2 separate regions of the Homo sapiens genome follow, and region 2 is linked to region 1. The links come from fine-mapping of genetic effects on gene expression. Tissue or cell type: whole blood. Region 1 holds a variant in brackets; the other region holds the start of a gene. All regions are shown on one strand. Distances are between the middles of the regions.

The links. PIP is the estimated chance that this variant, and not a neighbour inherited with it, causes the effect.
Region 2: it holds the start of NADK2, and the variant in region 1 is fine-mapped to the expression of NADK2 in whole blood (INTERVAL, PIP above 0.99).

What each region holds. Positions count from the first base shown.
Region 1 is chr5:36,292,531-36,298,866 of GRCh38, forward strand. All of the region lies in intron 1 of RANBP3L (RAN binding protein 3 like), which reads right to left. All of the region lies in intron 1 of LOC124900962 (a long non-coding RNA gene), which reads left to right. Among named protein-coding and RNA genes, the nearest start is that of RANBP3L, 6.2 kb to the right of the region's middle. The variant G/GT (reference allele first, on the strand shown) is at 3,143.
Region 2 is chr5:36,238,777-36,244,696 of GRCh38, forward strand. NADK2 (NAD kinase 2, mitochondrial) reads right to left here and starts at 3,149. Exons shown (of 12, transcript NM_001085411.3): 1 at 2,723-3,149. The coding sequence starts at 3,022. It overlaps LOC124900962 (a long non-coding RNA gene), which reads left to right and starts at 3,126. Exons shown (of 3, transcript XR_007058733.1): 1 at 3,126-3,252. RefSeq lists enhancers at 2,054-2,123, 3,474-3,673 and a silencer at 2,214-3,233.

The sequences.
Region 1 (6,336 bases):
TAGGTCTAACATTTAAGTCTTTAATCCATCTTGAATTGATTTTTGTATAAGGTGTAAGGAAGGGACCCAGTTTCAGCTTTCTACATATGGCTAGCCAGTTTTCCCAGCACCATTTATTAAATAGGGAATCCTTTCCCCATTGCTTGTTTTTCTCAGGTTTGTCAAAGATCAGATAGTTGTAGATATGCAGTGTTATTTCTGAGGGCTCTGTTCTGTTCCATTGATCTATATCTCTGTTTTGGTACCAGTACCATGCTGTTTTGGTTACTGTAGCCTTGTAGGATAGTTTGAAGTCAGGTAGCGTGATGCCTGCAGCTTCATTCCTTTGGCTTAGGATTGACTTGGCGATGCGGGCTCTTTTTTGGTTCCATATGAACTTTAAAGTAGTTTTTTCCAATTCTGTGAAGAAAGTCGTTGGTAGCTTGATGGGGATGGCATTGAATCTGTAAATTTCCTTGGGCAGTATGGCCATTTTCATGATATTGATTCTTCCTACCCATGAGCATGGAATGTTCTTCCATTTGTTTGTATCCTCTTTTATTTCCTTGAGCAGTGGTTTGTAGTTCTCCTTGAAGAGGTCCTTCACATCCCTTGTAAGTTGGATTCCTAGGTATTTTATTCTCTTTGAAGCAATTGTGAATGGGAGTTCACTCATGATTTGGCTCTCTGTTTGTCTGTTGTTGGTGTATAAGAATGCTTGTGATTTTTGTACATTGATTTTGTATCCTGAGACTTTGCTGAAGTTGCTTATCAGCTTAAGGAGATTTTGGGCTGAGACAATGGGGTTTTCTAGATAAACAATCATGTCATCTGCAAACAGGGACAATTTGACTTCCTCTTTTCCTAATTGAATACCCTTTATTTCCTTCTCCTGCCTAATTGCCCTGGTCAGAACTTCCAACACTATGTTGAATAGGAGTGGTGAGAGAGGTCATCCCTGTCTTGTGCCAGTCTTCAAAGGGAATGCTTCCAGTTTTTGCCCATTCAGTATGATATTGGCTGTGGGTTTGTCATAGATAGCTCTTGTTATTTTGAAATACGTCCCATCAATACCTAATTTATTGAGAGTTTTTAGCATGAAGGTTGTTGAATTTTGTCAAAGGCCTTTTCTGCATCCATTGAGATAATCATGTGGTTTTTGTCGTTGGTTCTGTTTATATGCTGGATTACATTTATTGATTTGCATATATTGAACCAGCCTTGCATCCCAGGGATGAAGCCCACTTGATCATGGTGGATAAGCTTTTTGATATGCTGCTGGATTCGGTTTGCCAGTATTTTATTGAGGATTTTTGCATCAATGTTCATCGAGGATATTGGTCTAAAATTCTCTTTTTTGGTTGTGTCTCTGCCCGGCTTTGGTATCAGGATGATGCTGGCCTCATAGAATGAGTTATGGAGGATTCCCTCTTTTTCTATTGATTGGAATAGTTTCAGAAGGAATGGTACCAGTTCCTCCTTGTACCTCTGATAGAATTCGGCTGTAAATCCATCTCTTCCTGGACTCTTTTTGGTTGGTAAGCTATTGATTATTGCCACAATTTCAGATCCTGTTATTGGTCTATTCAGAGATTCAACTTCTTCCTGGTTTAGTCTTGGGAGAGTGTATGTATCGAGGAATTTATCCATTTCTTCTAGATTTTCTAGTTTATTTGCGTAGAGGTGTTTGTAGTATTCTCTGATGGTGGTTTGTATTTCTGTGGGATCGGTGGTGATATCCCCTTTATCATTTTTTATTGTGTCTATTTGATTCTTCTCTCTTTTTTTCTTTATTAGTCTTGCTAGCGGTGTATCAATTTTGTTGATCCTTTCAAAAAACCAGCTCCTGGATTCATTAATTTTTTGAAGGGTTTTTTGTGTCTCTATTTCCTTCAGTTCTGCTCTGATTTTAGTTATTTCTTGCCCTCTGCTAGCTTTTGAATGTGTTTGCTCTTGCTTTTCTAGTTCTTTTAATTATGATGTTAGGGTATCAATTTTGGATCTTTCCTGCTTTCTCTTGTGGGCATTTAGTGCTATAAATTTCTCTCTACACACTGCTTTGAATGAGTCCCAGAGATTCTTGTATGTTGTGCCTTTGTTCTCGTTGGTTTCAAAGAACATTTTTATTTCTGCCTTCATTTCATTTAACTTAATGTCCTCAGGTTCATCCATGTTTTAGCATGTGTCAGAATTTCCTTCATTTTTAAGGCTGAAAATTATTTGGTTTTATATATATATATATGTATAGTGTGTGTATATATATAGTGTGTATGTATAGTGTATATATATAGTGTATATATGTATGTATGTTTATATATACATATATATGACATATAAACATATATATACTCATACATATATAGTGTATATATACACTATATATACATATATGTGTGTATATATACATATATAATATATGCATATATACATATGTACACTACATATTATATATGTATGTATACATATATATACACACACATATATATACACACCATATTTTGTTGATCCATTCGTTTGTCAGTGGAGATTTGTTTGTTTCCATCTTTTGGCTATTGTGAATAATACTACCATGAGCATAGGTGCACAAGTATCTGTTTGAATCCCTGCTTTTACTTCTCTTAGGATTTTATCCAGAAGTAAAATTGCAGGGTAACATAGTAATTCTATTTGTTAATTTTTTGAGGAACTGCGTGATATGGTTTTGCTGAGTCCCCACCCATATCTCATCTTGAATTGTAGTTCCCATAATCCCCACATGTCATGGGAGGGACCCAGTGGGAGGTAACTGAATCATGGGGGCTGTTACCCCCATGCTGTTCTCATGATAGTGAGTTCTCATGAGATCTGATGGTTTTATAAGGGGCTTTTCCGTCTTTGCTCGTCACTTCTCCTTCCTGCCACCATGTGAAGAAGGATACGTTTGCTTCCCCACTTCTGCCATGATCATAAGTTTCCTAAGGCCTCCCCAGCCCTGTGGAACTGTGTGTCAATTAAACCTCTTTCCTTTATAAATTACCCAGCCTCAGGGAGTTCTTTATAGCAGCATGAGAACAGACTAATACATTGCCATAGTACTTTTCACAGCAGCTCCACCATTTTATCTCCTGCAACAGTGCACGAGGTTCCAATTTCTCCACATTCTCACCAACATTTGTTATATCCT[G/GT]TTTTTTTTTTTTTTTTTTTCAAATAGTAGCCATCCTAATATTTGTGAAGTGGGAAAATGAAGTTTCAGCCATTAAACTTATTTATTTATTGTTTCCTAGTGGACTCTATTAGGAAGGCTTATTATGGAACTATCTAAGGGATCCTTACATAGTTCCAAGGAAGGGGCTGTCACATCAAAAAGCCCAAACATGTGATTAGAGATTGGAAATTTCAAACCCACCCCATTCCCCTAACTTCCTAGGAGGAGAGAAGAACTGGAGATTAAGTTCAGTCATATGGCCAATTATTTAATCAATCATGCCTACATAATGAAACCTCATTAAAAACCCTGGACACCATGCTCAGGGGAGCTTCCTGATACTAAGAGGGCGGCACACCCTGACTCTGTGGAAGCAGAGGCTCCTGTGCTCATGACCCTTCCAGTCCTCCTCCCATGTACCTCTTCATCTGGCTGACCATTTGTATACCTTATAATGAAATGGAAATTGAAAGTACAGAGCTTTCCTCAATTCTGTGAGTTGTTCTAGTGAATTATCAAATCTGAGGGGTTGTGGGACGTCTTTAATTTGTAATTGTCCTGGCAGAAGTGCAGATTGCTTGGGGACACCTGAAATTTGTTGTTGGAATCTGAAACGGGGCAGTCTTATGGGACTAAGTCCTTCATTTGTGGGTCTTCACTAATTCTGGGTAGTGTCAGAATTGAATTGAATTGTACGACACTCAGAGAATAAGTGTCAGAAGACAAAAAGAAAATCATGAGGAATTCCAACATGTCTTGGTTATCCATGGAGAAGTTTCTCTAGTATAGATCAATTTAAAAAAATTAAACATTGTAATACTAGAAATCATAGATTTTACGAGACAGCTGTATGTGGCAGAAAGTACATTGAAAGCAGCTCTTAATAACTGTGTAACCTTGGAAGAGTCATCTTGACCTTGAAGATTCACGGTTTCCACATCTTTATAAATAAGGATAACAATACCTGCTCGTGATTATTAGTTTTATGTGTCAGCTTGGCTGTTCCATGATACCCAGATATTTTGTCAACATTCTGAATGTTTCGGTGAGGATGTTTTTGAATGAGGTTTACACTTAAACTAGTAGACTTTGACTCAAGCAGATTGCCCTTCATTAGTGAGTGAGTCTCATCTAATCAGTCAAAGGCCTGAATAGAACAAAAGACTGACTACCCCAGAGCAACCAAGAATGGACTCAACTGCAGAATTAGCTCTTCACTTGGGTCTGCAGCCTGTCAGTCTACACTGCAGTTTGGACTTGCCAGCCTTCATAATTGTGGGAGTGAATTTCTTAAAATAAATCCCCCTCTCTCTCACCCTCTCTCTTCTCTCTCTCTATTCTCTCTCGTTAAAATTTTGCATATAACTTTTGCTGCTCCCAAAACTTAATTATTAATAGCCTAGAGGTGACCAGAATCCTTATCAATAACATAAGACAGTCGATTAATACATATTTTATATATTATATGTGTTATATACTGTATTCTTATGATAAAATAAGCTAGAGAAAAATGTTATTAAGAAAACCATAATGAAGAGAAATATATTTACTGTTTATTAAGTGGAAGTGGATTGTCATTAAGGTCTTCATCATTGTCTTCATTTTGAGTAGGCTGAGGAGGGGGAGGAAGAGGAAGGGTTGATCTTGCTGTCTCAAGGGTGGCAAAGGAAGAAAATCCACATATAAGTGGATCTGAACAGTTCAAATTTGTGTTGTTCAGGAGTCACCTGTATACACACACACACACACACACGCACACACACACATCCTATTGGTTCTGTTTCCCTGAAGAAGCTTGACTACACTATTTCATTTGGTTGTTGTGAAAATTAATGAAATAATGTATATGAGACCATTTGTAAATTTTAAAGCACCATAATACATAAGGAAGGTTGTCTGCCTAGTACATGTAATGTGTAATGAGCTTTGCTGAGGCTGTATAGACATGTAAATTAACGTTTACAAATGTGTTCATAGAATCAATATTAGAGATAAATGGATTAAAAATATCACAGGAGAAGCTAGAAGATAGCAACAAGTTGGGAGATGAGCCTCCTGGACTTGTGTTCTGGACTGATAGAGCATTTGTTGTCATAGTAAACTCCACGTGGACAGAAAACCATGGCTTAGTTGTCTTAGTTCAATTTGCATACTCAGCATCTAGCACAACACTTTGCACCTTGTTGTTGCCCAGATAACTGCTGAAGAATAAGTGATTTTTATCTATGTAATCACTTCAAAATTACACTTCTGTGAGTGACTAGGTGGAAGGACACGAAGCATTTTAGCATATGGCATGGGGGGTTAGAAAATATATATGTGTTGAGGTCAGTGCGGTGGCTTATGCTTGTAATCCCAGCACTTTGGGAGGCCGAGGTGGGAAGATCATGAGGTCAGGAGTTCGAGACCAGCCTCACCAATATGGTGAAACCCCCGTCTCTACTAAAAATAAAAAAATTAGCCAGGCATGGTGGAGTGTGCCTGTAGTCCGAGCTACTCAGGAGACGGAGGCAGAAGAATCACTTGAACCCGGGAGGCAGAGGTTGCAGTGAGCCGAGATCATGCCACTGCACTCCAGCCTGGGTGACAGAGTGAGACTCCATCTTAAAAAAAAAAAAAAAAAGGAAAAGAAAATATGTATGTGTTGAAGCTAGTCACGCCTACAGAAGTGTCGAATGTCAATTAATCATAGTCTGTATGCTAAATAATAGAGGCAGAACTTTAGGCTGGCTGGGGAAAGGCCAAAGCCGTGAACCCAGGATGATTCCATGAATAAAGCCAGACCTCACTCTCTAAAACAAATGGCTTTGCTTCCTGGGACCTTTGCTGAACTTCACATAATAGCAAGGTGCAAAAATAGCTTGGAGGAAAAAGCAGGGCCACTGCTCTGAATGAATACTTTAAAACTCCAGGACAGTAACTGGAATGCAATTTAGCAACACAGCAAATACTACCCAGCTCAAATCACTAGATGATATTTCTTGCAGCAATCAATGGCCAGTCTGGACTGCATTAGCATGCTTCACAACTTTATGGATTGTGGCTTATGTGGGCAGATATTTTGAGACTTGGGTGTGGAAGAATATGCTTGCTTTCAAAACATTCTAGGCAAAAAGCTAAGTCTGAGAAAGAAGACCAGTCTTGTGGGTATTTTGGGAAGTATGTCATCATAG
Region 2 (5,920 bases), 54 kb before region 1:
GGTCAATCAATGGGGAAAAAGACAAGATTTTAAAATAAAGCAATGTAACCAATATGAAACGGTAAATAAAAGTCAAAACTTTGACTAGCTTGAAGGTTGTAAACCTATTCTGTGCATGCCTTATCAACTAAAAAATATTTCCTGTAATTGTTTACATTTCTACAAAGTTAGAAAATCATCAGCCTTCAGGGTATAAAATTATACTGGCACTCTATCCTTCATCTTCCATTTGCATTTTAACAAATAGCCTAAAACAGACCTGTTTTACATCAAAAAACCACCACCACGACAACAAAAGAGAATGCTTTGACAAAAAACCAAGTTACCATGACACTATAGACACAGCAGCCATGGTGAGACTCAAGCACTTGGCCACTTTCTTTTATATCCATCCAATTCACATGATTCACATAACTTAGTATTTTCTACCCCAGCAATATAACAAATAATACTTATCATCTTATCACTCCTATTACAGAATCCCATTTTAGGACAGCTTCACACAGCCCAGTATTCTTTGGCCTGTTAATAATCTCTCATCTGGTCTACAACTAATGCTATTGCATTCTGAGTATGGGCCTTTATATAAACTATAACACAAATTCAAATCAGTAAGGAACTTATCCAATAAAACTGTAATGACAACACCACCAACAAAAACTATTCCACTGCCTGGCAATTACAAAACTGTGTATTCTACAGCCCACGAGTTTTACTTCAAAGCTGGCTTATCCCAAACAGCATTACCTAGCAATAGACAAATATTTACCTATTAGAGATTTCTCCACTCAGAACGGGTACACTTAGGTAGTTTGACTTTTTAAGACTTATTGATTTTCCCTACATTTTAAAAGTTTTTTTATTAAGTGGTAATCTAGTTCAGAGGTCCAAGAGTTAATCCTAACTGAGATGCCACCCATTTTCTTGAGGCCTTGAAAACGTTATCCACAGTTTCAAAATGCCAGTACTGTAAAGGGCCTTGGAGGCTATCTGGTACTACCTCTGCAATTCACATACTGAATTAGGTGAAGCACTTTGAAAACTGACACTACTATACAAAAAGTATCATTTCCACCTATGAGGCCCAGAGAAGAACACACATAGGAAGTTAACCACACAGAACCAGGGCCTAGAACTGAGCTCTTCACTCTTAATCCCACACTCTGAACATGCCAAGTGAGCTATTTTAAATTGTTGTGGGAAGCTTCGATAAAACTGTATGCACATATTTATGCATACATGGCATTTGACAAATCCTACAAGCTAGACTTTGCAAAATTAGTACAACCCAAAGGGCACACCACTTTCCCCAAATAGTAACACTGTGCTTTCTTAGAACATTACTAGTCCCTATCTCACCTCTAGTTTCACTCCCTAATACAAACTCAACTACTCTAACCTCCTGTTCAAACCCTTTATTCTTTAAATGATGCAAGTGTATTCTATAAACAGTCATTTTCAAACACTTAGGAAAAAGAAAACAAATCTACACATCTAGACTCCCATCAGGTGAATGCAGGAGCCCTCTTCAGTAAACCCAACAAAGAAGCAGGATGTTTAATGTTGACAACAGATTCAGCACTTAAGCAAAGATGATTTACAATTTCATTTTGATGCCTCTACAAAATAACTTCGCTAAGATCACACGATACCAGAAGTTTCCAACAGGTTGTCTAGTCTTGCACAGAATTAAACTAAATCAGTTATGTGCAATTAATTCCAAAACCTTTTGGTGCACAGTGCCAACAATTAAGAGATTTCCAATATATTTTTCTGGACATACTGCTCATGGTAGCACCGGGCACTCTCCTTTTCCTAAAGTTGGTGGATGGTGGTATGGGATCAGAAACTGTTTTTAAAGTTGGTGGGGGGGGATGACAACAGGAAGATTCAAACTCTGGTTTTTCCCTTGGATTTGTATCTTTGCAGATATATTAATAAACATATCAAATATGGTATATTGTGGAGATACTGCTGCACAAGAGTCGCAGGCTTTTTTATTTCACACACTACCCAGTATACCAGCCCCTTGTCCTGACATTTCTCCTTAATAACGTACATATACAAGTCAAATTTTCTCCCTTTTCCTTCTTAGCACCAAAGACCTGTGCTTTTAAAACAAGCTCGTAGTGTCCAACGACCACGTTCCAGCAAGGAAAAGGCTCACGCTGAAGGACTTTCCGGAGTGCCCTAGGCCTCGCAGTCCTGCAGAGTAAAAGGGGGTGTGTCCGCGGTTGTTTCGGCCCTTTTCCCCCGGCAGCCCTCAGCGGCGCCCTGGGCCCCCTTTCTCGCGGCGGCCAGGGGAGCTGTTCGCAGGGCGTCCAGACCTCAGGCCACTGGCTCACTTTCTTGGAGTGGGTCCCAACCAGGGAACGAGGGCGGGGGCGGCGAGGGCACCAACGAATCCTCAAACCCCTCACTCTGAGGCCACTCGGCAGCCCCTCTTCGCCCTCCCCGCGGCGCCCCTGCCTCCTAAGTCCCTGCATGAACCACTGTCCCTCTCTCTCCCCCTCTCCCCGGCCCTGCCTCTCCCTCGCACACACGCCCAAAGGCAAAGGAGGCCCAGGGAGAAGCCAGAGGACCTGGGGGCCGCGAGAGAGGCAGGACCGGCATCTGCGGTGCCCTGGGAAGAGTCGTCCCGAGAGGTCCCCCCGAGGGGGCGCAGCCGCCACCAGAGCCCCGGCCGAGCCCGGGAGCGAAGCGGGGCCGAGCCAGGACCCACCAGCTGCTTCAGGTCCTCCTCCGAGAGCTCCGCGTAACGGTACCGCTGCTGCTCGAACTCGTACCGGGTGGTTTTGGCCACCACCACCACCCGGGAGGGGCGGAAGCCGCCGTCCGCGCGGCTGCCACAGCCCGCCAGCTCGCGCGGCTGCCCCTGCCCCAGGTGCCGCCGGCCGCCACCGTCACCGCCCAGCCGGGGCCGCGCGGCGGGGCCTCCCGCACCCGGTCCCCGCAGCGCCGCCGCCCGGCCGCCCGCCACGCGACAACAGCTGCCCAGCAAGAAGCCTCGGTAGCAAGTCATCGTGGGCCGGGCCGCGGCCGCGGGCTTGGGCTCGGGCCCCTTGCCTCAGCTCCCTACCGCCGGGAGTGCGCGCCGTCCGCGCCGCCCGGGCCTCTAACTTCGCGCCGGACGGGCAGAGGTTAAGTGCCAGGACGTGCGTGGCCCACGCGGCTAGGGGGACGTACCCAGGCGTTGACGAAGGCGGGGAAAGCGTGGCGATTGGGAAACGGGAGACCCCACGCGGGAGAAAGGTGGGCGGGGAAGAAATGGAGGCCCCAGCTAGTGGGTTTTGTTTGTTTGTTTATTCGTTTCACTCACGCCTGCATAATGGCTGCTTCGCCGCCCGGGGGCGACCTCCCCGCACCACACGCTTCCCCGAGGTCGCTCTTCTCCCGCCCCCAGGCTAACTCTATCGGCCAATCAGAGCCCGCGGCGGCTCCGGATCCGAGGGGCCGCGCCATTGGCTGCGGCCTGAGAAAGAGGTAGAATTCTGTTAGGCGATTGCGTCGCCCTGAGGAATCCAGCTGGATCCGGTCTGAGGCGGCGCGGGGCCAGCGGGTGGGGTTTTGAGCGGCTGGCGGGAAGGCAGGTTCCTGGCATATGCTCGCTTGGGTTCTGTTCTGCAGGCCGACCACGTGCCCATTGGTTTATTTGACCAGGGTCGGTGTGATAGCTGGTGTGTCTGGGGCCGGGCTGGGGGCTGAGGAGGCGGACCCGGCTCCTGCTGCACCGTGTGCGTGGCTTGGCACGAAATCCTCTCGGCGTGGGACCCAGTGCCCGCCCCGCTGCCCCCTGCCCCCCCGAAGAGCCCTACCTATAGGACAAAGTCCAAATGAATTAGTTCTTTGAAAGCTTTTAACTGGAAAGGAGTGAGTTAAAGCAATGTTTGATGACTATTGATCTGGCTTTGGAATCTTGGGTAGCTTGGGAGGCAAGAAGAGGAGGAAGGGATGCTGTTGGGATAATGACCCGTGGAGTGATCAGGACCTGGGCTGGGGTGTGACGAGAACAGAAGGAAACGTCCCATTGTAAGGGGAGAACCACATGGCAGTGCACATCCTGCTGTTCAATTCCGCAGCTCCTTAGATCCCCTTCCCCTGGCACTGTGTTTGCTCCTTTGTAGTCCTGGCGCTACGTCGCTTCTGGACTTTGGGCAGGTTACCTCATCTTTCTGGGCCTCAGATTCCTCATCTGTAAAAAGGGGGTTAGGGTGACCCCAAGGTTCTACCAAGTCCAAATCGATTCAGTGAATCTATGACTCTCCTCACGGGCCCACCAGCACCAGCGTTCATTCGTGGGTTCCCGCGGTGTGCCTGCTGTGTGCCAGGTAGTGTATTGGACTGGGAGCATACACAATGAAGCCCGATAGGTGTTTACTTGGTAAAGTTCTACCACTGACCCGTTCTCACCAAGAACTTTCCCTCACAGCAGCTGCTAATAGTGACGTGTAGTGTAACAACCTTAATAACCTGAGCTTCTAGAGGTAACATCTATAACTATCCTCAGACTCCTTTGTAGTCTTACTATTTTAAACTTCATTAGCATTAGGAAGGAAAAAAAAAAGGGAGAAATCACAGATGACGCTTAGGTTTGAGGCCAGGGTGAACAGGGGAATGTTAATTGATCCATTCGATAGAGAAAAAAAAATGCGTAGGGAGAAACTGTTTGGGATCAAAGTCTGAGTTTTGTTGCTCATATTTGAAATCTCGGACCTCATTTCTTCCCATTTCACAGATAAAAACCCAGATTTTTGACTCTCATTTCAGCTGCAAACATATACATTGACATCTCAGTTGGAATAGCCCTTTGTCCATAGTTATTTTGCGTCTCATCTTCCACCTCCTCAAAAATAGTGTTTCTGAAGGCATCCTCTCACAGGTATCTTGAATTTTCCCTCCCAAATGAGTTTGCCTCTTCAGTATTTAAATATGCTCATGTCTATGACATCTTTAAAATTTTTCTAAAAAAACAAAACAACCTCTAAGCCTTTGTTTTTACATATTGCCTGCCTTACCTTTACAGCTGATTCTCGAAAGAGTAGTCTGTTCATCATTGCCACATCCCTGCCTCCTAGTCATTCCTCAACCTGTTGTACACTAGCTTCTCCCCACTACTTTGCTAATTACTGCTGTTTCCAAGGTGACCAAAAGATCTTGTTGGAACTCAAAAGACTTTTTTCAGTTCTTTAATTGATTGATCTTTCCAAAGAATTTGAAATGGTTATCATTTCTTCTTGAAATCTTTTACTGTCTCCCAACATACCAGTCCCTAACAGTGTTTCTCCCATCTCTATGTCCCTTTTTGACTTCTTCCTAAACCCATCTCCAAGATGTCTTCTGTCCTCGTCTCCTTGTCTCTTCTTCTCCGTCTTTTTTCCTTCTCTCTCTCTCTCTCTGTCACACACACACGCTCCTGAGTTCATTCAGTGTTGTGTAATGGAAGGATCTTGGTTCAAATCTCAGTTTTATTGTTTATTAGCTTTGTGAAACTTGAACTGGTTGTTTAACCTTCCTGAGACTACTTCTGCATTTATAAAATATAATTGCTACCTTGTAAAATTGTGAATATATGCACAGATGCTTAGCACTGTGCCCATTACACAGTAGACACTTGGCAAATATTAGCCCCTTTCATGACCTCAGCTATTACTGGCATCTTTAGCCCAGATCTTTCTCTTGAATTTCCAATCCTTATCTAGTTTCCTTTTAGATAATGTCTCTTAAATCTTACACATGTAACACACATTCGTGGAGATTAAATTAAATTTGAGTGTCACTGTAGGCCAGGCATCCTGCTAGGTGCTACAGATGAAATGATAAAAAGCTTCCATGCCCTTGAGGAGCCTAAAGTCTATGCAGTGATAGAGTTATACACAGAATGCTGAGAAATTTGGAGGAGCAAGTCTCAAGTCAACCTAAC